Linked DNA regions of Homo sapiens. The protein of the gene in region 2 purifies or fractionates together with the protein of the main gene of each other region. This does not show direct contact. Each region holds a gene or a part of one and is shown on either strand. Other genes may lie near its edges.

What was found.
Region 1: the proteins of FOXO3 (region 2) and TAF5L purify together in Homo sapiens (affinity purification with mass spectrometry; one large-scale study listed by BioGRID and IntAct). This does not show direct contact.

Annotation. Positions count from the first base shown.
Region 1 is NC_000001.11:229,616,072-229,619,893, forward strand, and holds part of TAF5L (TAF5-like RNA polymerase II p300/CBP-associated factor-associated factor 65 kDa subunit 5L), read right to left. Parts: intron 1-3,822. UniProt on the Homo sapiens protein: Functions as a component of the PCAF complex. The PCAF complex is capable of efficiently acetylating histones in a nucleosomal context. The PCAF complex could be considered as the human version of the yeast SAGA complex.
Region 2 is NC_000006.12:108,665,167-108,668,988, reverse strand, and holds part of FOXO3 (forkhead box protein O3), read right to left. Parts: intron 1-3,822. UniProt on the Homo sapiens protein: Transcriptional activator that recognizes and binds to the DNA sequence 5'-[AG]TAAA[TC]A-3' and regulates different processes, such as apoptosis and autophagy.

The DNA.
Region 1 (3,822 bases), on a different chromosome or scaffold from region 2:
TGGCATGATCTCAGCTCACTGCAGCCTCCACCTCCTGGGTTCAAGTGATTCCCTGCCTTAGACTCCCGAGTAGCTGGGATTACAGGCCCACGCTACCACACTTGGCTAATTATTAAATTTTTAGTAGAGATGGGGTTTCACCATGTTGGCCAGGCTGGTCTCGAACTCCTGACCTCAAGTGACTTGCCTGCCTTGGCCTCTCAAAGTGCTGGGATTACAGGTGCGAACCACCGTGCCTGCTCTTCCATTCTTTTTTAAGATGTAAAATTCCACCTTTTCCGGAAGTCTATTTATTTATTTATATTTTTTTTTTTAGTAGAGAAGGGGTTTTGCTATGTTGTCCAGGGTGGTCTCAAACTCCTGGGCTTAAGCAATTCTCCTTCCTTAGTCTCCCAAATTGTTGGGATTACAGGCATGAGCTACCATGCCTGGTCTTATTTTTCTTTAAACATAAAAAAATTATTTGTATCTAATTTTCGTCCATCTGCAGTTTCTTTTAGTGTATGTGTGGTGAATAACCAAACAAATGTTTTGCCCAGTGACTGTAGCTAACACACTGTCCCAATACCATTTGCAAGTAATTATTTCCTTCTAAACTGATTTGTGGGAGCCCTTTAAAAATATACTCTGAAGACCTACTTTTCAATTCCCTACAAGTCATACAACAGAGCAAACTGTGAAGGCTAGAGACATACTCACAAGTATATATACATGTAAATATAAAATGTTAGGACATTATATATATATTAAACTATATGCCCAGAAAGATTACATTATCTGTGCATTTTATTTCTAGGTTGCCAAAGAGTTCAAAATATTTGTTACAAAGAAGGGGTACTAGGTGTGTGATTGTTAAAAAGAAGGAACACTATGGTTGTGAATCAGTGACATAATGAAACACAATAATAAATTTCCAAATACTGAACTCTCTTCTCACTATGAAATTTACCTTGCTTGGGTATGGTGTATTATTCTCTCACTGTATTGATGACTTAGGTTACTTTTTAATTAAGCTGTTTTTTTAAATTGCTAATACAGGGATTCTGATACTCTGAGAGTGGGGTCCCTGCTCCCATTCTCTGTGGCCACTGATCAGCACTGCTCTATCAGTGATCCTCCAACCTGGCTATACATAAGAATCCCATGAGTGTGTGGATATGTATATAAATAATTTCAGCCCTGCAGATTCTGGTTGTGTTATATTTAGAGTAAAAAAGTTAAATGCACACGGAGGCTGTGACAGTACTGTCCTTTCCCGTGTGGCCCAAAGTCAAGACGAGTCAATCCAACCAGTGCCTCTTCCTATCACTTGCTACAGCTGCTTTTCATCTAACTTCAAGATCTCCTACTCTGCGGGCTTTCCCAAAGCAGCCCAATTCCCTACTCTAGCTGAGACTGAAATCTTTCCGGCTTCCACACTGCCGATCTTTTGCTGACTTGGGAATGCATGCAAATATTGATGCACATCCGTGAGCATTCCAGGCAGATGGGCCTCGATCTCTTAGATCACCTCTGACAGGAAAAAACTCTGCATGTGAAAGACATGTGAATGACTGATCTGGAGAACAGGCTCTGCAATGACACAGTGTCCTCAAGGTGCGACAATATACCTATGTGTCTGAGGAGGAAGGGAAAAGATGTGAAGTTAGGAAAGAGTAAACAGAACGGAGTAAGAATGAATGATAGTCAACACTGACCATATTTAAGATTGCTAGAAACTAGTCTGTAATACTGATTCTAACAAATATGCTTAAATTAGCTGCCCCAAATAGCAATTTCTCTGAGTCCAAACTACCATTTATGATAAGGGCGCTTCCCTGAGGGTGGGTGGTGAATCAACTGTATGGCCATGGATCTTAAGGGCAGGAATTCTGGCAATGACTCTCTTGCATAACCACGCTAAACTCAAATACTAGAGACACGACCCAATCAACTCAGCTGGGTTTTATTCCAATGTACATATATTTCAAGTGACATGGATAATTAATGAACCTGAGATAAATCGGTCCCCTCCACCCAGACTGATTTCCAGAGTACTAATATCCAAAAAGGGACAAGTGAAGAAAAAAAACTCTCCTTAAACTAGACCTAAGTCTCTGGAGAGACTCATACATGAGACGAACAGTGCAGTTTCGTTACCTGCCTAGCTTTTCCTATAATTATAAAATCTTTCAAACTGAAATTGGATTTAAATATAATTATACTCTTTGTTAACATTTCAGAATTTCTCATCATTTTCAATTTATATAAAATACTTAACTTTCAGAGGTAAAAACAGATGTCAAATACTCTGCTCTTCATATCACATTATTGATATTTCTGGAAATCAAAAATTTCTGGAGGATTTTGACACAATGTATATCTATTCTCATGTATCAACAGTTGCCAGATTGGTATTTCTGGAAATCAAAAATTTCTGGAGGATTTTGACACAATGTATATCTATTCTCATGTATCAACAGTTGCCAGATACTTCAACCAAGTTGCTATATAAAATCCCACATGATCATTTCAATGTAACAACTCTGCAGGGAAAACCACAGCCACACTTAACATTCAACTACAGAAACATGGGGAGGTGGAGATACATGGAACCCAGGCATCCTCTTAAGATGCTGTCAGTGTGGAACTCTAGTCTGGTCAATCCCTTCAGTGGTTACACGCTGCATCCTATCCCTCCACCCCCACCCCCGTTAGGCTCTAATGTACACGGTCGGTAGAGGAGGGCTGGGAGGCACCCTCATCCACCATATCACAGGTTAAAGTACTACACAGTTCCACGAAATGCCAAAAGAGTACTACCTGGCTCCCCCATCCCTCCCCCTGCCCCAATAAGGTGGCAGTTTTGAGTAGGGGTGAGTTCAAGATAAATTCAGGCAAACTCACTACACAATCCTCAAATCAGCTCTTCAACTGAGACTTCTGACTGTTGGCTTTTGAGTAATTGTATCTTTTTTCCAATGGCAAATTTATGTTTATAACAGAAGAAAAAAATTATTTTTTTGCATTTTTTTGTAAAGTGTCTACTAGGTAACTCAAGTTATTAGTTCTCTTCACTCACAGCAACTAAATGGTTGTAACATCAAAAGATCAGTCTAAGTAGGACCTAAAGCCCTAGCTTTGCATTAATCATCATGATAAAGTGTATTCAATAAGCTTTGTGAAAATATAAATCACAACTGAAAAATAAATGAGCCATACTACTTTCAGTTTCAGTCATACCTCATATAATTTAAAAATTATGATAGCCTTTCATATTCAATCTTTGCTCAGACTGACATAAATACACTTGAACTAGAAGCTGTGTTTTTTCCCATGGTGTCCTAAGAAATAAAATGGCACATGGATAAGGCCGTAGCTGGGCTCAGGACGCAGTGAAGAATGTGGCGTTTTGGTGGGGATGGCAGCAGTGGTAGAAAGTAGGTGGAAATCACGAAATCCAGCAAACAGATGTCATGAGAAGTAGATTTTCTCCAACATCAGCTGGGACCTCCATGATGTTCCAGAAGTCTTGTTTCATCAACTACTTACCCTACAGCCTTCCACCTACGCTATTCTAAACCTTCACCAGTCTCCTCACCCAGCCAGCTGACCCTGCTTCTGACCTCAGTGGGCTACTGAGACTTGGGATTCCTTAACTTTTTGATCTAACCAGTCACTTTCCAGCACCACCCTTCACGATCTCTCAGCTGGATGTGATGCTGCTGAACTCACCTCCTACTTGAAACTCTCTTGGTCCCTCCCACTGCAAGCCTCTCTTGTGGCTCTGCCCTCCCATTACTGTCTGCCACTGCTTCTTCACATTCCCGGCTTCACCACACC
Region 2 (3,822 bases):
AGGCGCCCGCCACCACGCCCGGCTAATTTTTTTGTATTTTTAGTAGAGACGGGGTTTCACCGTCTCGATCTCCTGACCTCATGATCCACCCGTCTCGGCCTCCCAAAGTGCTGGGATTACAAGCGTGAGCCACTGCGCCCGGTCTTCAAGTTTAAAATTATACATACTATGCACCTTTAAAACTTGATGAGGCTGTCTTCTTTTGACAAATGAGAAACCTAATATTCTACAAGATTGAGTGATGTGGCAGAGACAAGAAGTGAACCACCCCTCCCCTCTCCATCTGGGCTTTTGCTGGTGGATGCTTCCCAGTCTTTATGTAAAGTACTTTAAACTAAATATTGGGCTGCTCCCTAATGGTGTCTCCAAATGTCAAAAGATGAAGATGAATGAAAGTTTGTGAATGCAGGCATCTTTGATATCAAATTAAGGTGAGACTGAAGCTGGTTTCCCTCAGAGAGGACACATGTCGAACTCAAGAAGGCTTACCGGAAGCTCGAGCTTGCAGCACCACACCAGCTCATGACCATCTCTGCCACCAACTGTAAGCACATGCACCAAGCTTTATGAACACCTGAGAGAACACAGTGCCCTTCACGACCCAGCAGCCAGCCCTCCAAAAAAGTATGGCTATTTTTTCTTTTCCAGATAGACCTAAGGGTCAAAGAATTCTACACGTGGTCTAAAATGAATGACGTGTGAAACACCCAGCCCGCCAGAGAAGCATCTTGCTGCAGCTCCCCAGCAAGACTGCCTGTCAACTGAGCAGACCGCTCCATTAACACAAGGCGGCTCAGATTCAGCATCACATGACCTTCTTCTGTGAGCAAGCCAGGAATTCAGTCTGGAGAAACACTAAGAAGTTAAACCAAGAAAGTTATTAGAGAGCAACTCTTGGGAAGCTGGGACAGTTAATTTGAGAGAAGCAGGGTGTCAGAGTCTGACCTCAGCCTCGTTCTGTGAATTTAGGAGAGTCTTCAATGAAGTGACAGTCACAGTTAAGTTTTAAAGTAAAAAATACACTTCAGGTTGCATGTGCTCCTGGCTGCTGAAAGAACAATGGATTCTAAGCAAAAATGGAAATCCTAAACCAGAAACTAGATCCCCTCACAGCCCCCACTGTCCTTTGGATGGTTCTTTAAATGCTCTGTGGTCATACTGAGCTAGTCTACTTTCAGGAAAATTTGGTGACTTTTCATTTTTAGCTGAAGAAGTTATCTTCTCAAAACAACCTCCCCCAAAATATTCTGAGGCGAAGATGACCCTAAAGCTTCATTAGGATATAACAATGAAATGCATTATCCTCAATGCAGTCATTTATTATCATCACCAAAATCAGAGTTCACCAGATAAACTTTAAAAATCTAAGTATTTAGATCTCCCTTAATTTTCTGTACAATCCTTTAGAATTACACATATACGAGAAAGATCTGCTGTTCAACCAAAAGGGAAACCAACACTTGAAAAATCAGACAAAAACTGATACTACATTGTCTTCTGAACACATATTTTCCAACGAACTAGAAAGTGGCCTCCTTACAATTACACTCAAATTAAAACTTACTTGTGTCTTTAAAAGCCTATTTTTAAAGGAAGACAAACCATTTATTCTTTTAAAAGCCAAACATCTACATTTCTAAAGACAAATCTTCCATATTCTTCTCCTTAAAGGAAGACAAACTAGTCTTCTAAAGGCCAAATATCTACATTTCTGAAGTCAAATCTCCACTAGCCCAAGTTCTGGTATGGAACTGAGCTGGCTGGCATGGAAGTACTACCACCCTACTTAGCTTCCATTACAGTCTTTTCACCATCTCAAGGGCTATTAAATGACTGAAATCAGATATCTGAGTTCCATTAGGGGTCTCTTAGGCCTGAGAAAGTTGAGAGGCTTTAGCATCACAACACTCTTAACATTCCCCTTTCTGCAACCACCCGTGAGCTGGAGTGAGCTCACCATAGGAGACCCTTGTTAAGTCCTTCATCATGGCAGAGGGTTAAACAAGGCTCAAGTTTTTACAGCTTTGAATTCCCTTGCTTTTTACACCACTTAAAGAAGCCTGTAAGTAGCTTGCTGAGACTAAAACAAAACAAAGCAAAAGGGCTGGGGCACGGAACAGAACCTGTTAACATCGAGGTGGCTAGGGGTGCAAACCTGTTGGTAGAAGATCCCAGTGTTCATCTTACTTCTTGAGGAGGAGAGTTTTTAGGGAAAGCTTGTCTATCATCTGCTACTTTGACTCCAGTTCAGGGCACTTCCCTCCCCTCCCCGCTTTTTTTCTAACCAGCTAGAGAGAATAAGGAAGAACTACTATGGGGGTTCAAGCCATTTAAGAAATGAATCTAGGCCGGGCACGGTGGCTCACGCCTGTAATCCCAGCACTTTGGGAGGCTGAGGCGGGCGGATCACAAGGTCAGGAGATCGAGACCATCCTGGTGAACACAGTGAAACCCCATCTCTACTAAAAATTAAAAAAAAAAAAAAATTAGCCAGGCGTGGTGGCGGGCGCCTGTAGTCCCAGCTACTCAGGAGGCTGAGGCAGGAGAATGGCGTGAACCTGGAAGGTGGAGCTTGCAGTGAGCCGAGATCGCGCCACTGTACTCCAGCCTGGGAGACAGAGCAAGACTCCATCTCAAAAAAAAAGAAAAAGAAAAAGAAAAAAAAAGAAATCAACCTAGCTCTGTAACCTTGGGCAAACTACTTAACCTCTCTGGGCTACCTGCTTGCCCATTTGTCAGTATACCTAGTTGCATGGTACATATTTCAGCCTACTGCAGTTTCACATGCTTTAGTGCATTTGATTCTTGTAATAACCCTGTGAAGTAATGGGGGCTATTATCCTCATTTTATAAAACTGGAAGTTGAGACTCAGAGACCTAAGACACAACCATAGTGGTAGCAAGAAAGTGGTAGAAGTGGGCCTGAACCTCAATTCCTGATTTCAATCAAATGCTTTTTCTTACATCACACTGCCTGATCTTTGTGGTTCTGAGAACATTAAAATGCCACAATTGAAAAAATCTCCATCACCATTCACAACCTGTGTCACTCTATGTTTGGAAACTGCTGATATCATTTATAGTTTGGTGAACAAGCAGAAGCACACGAGTAAGTACTCCCTCATACAAACACCTGTGTTTTCAAATTAATTTTTTGGCTTTTTTTTTTTTTTTTTCTAAGAGATAGGTTCTTGCTTTACCACCCAGGATGGAGTGCAGTGGCACGATCATGACTCACTGCAGCCTCAAACTCCTGGGCACAAGGGATTCTCCTGAGAAGCAGGGGCTACAGGTATGTGTCACCACACCCAGCTAATTTTTTAAGTTTTCTGTAGAGACAGAGTCTTGCTATGTTGCCCATGCTGGTCTCTGACTCCTAGCCTCAAGCAATTCCTGCTTCAGTCTCCCATAGTTGTGGGATTATAGGCGTGAGACACTGTGCCTGGCCTCTTACTTTTTTAAAGGTTTAGCTCTTGAGTGCTAGCTAATAAAGATGCTTAGTACTAAGATAAAGAATAATTAACAGATTTTGCTTCTGTTAGAAATATTCATATATGAAAGAGTCTAGAATACATATTCTGCAGGCAAATTAGAAGTACCTGCCGATCATTACTTTACAAGGAAAAAAAGATGAAGAACATGTAACACTGAAGATTGACAAAAGCGGTGACGGACCAGAGAGTCTTTCTAGGAAAGCCCTTTGGCTGGGATCCTTAACCCTGAAGTACGACCCAAGCTTCCCATCCCTCTCCTTCTCTTCTCATCCATCCATCAAGTAGGGCAACCTGCGTCACAGGCCAGTGAGGACAACTGGATGCAAAA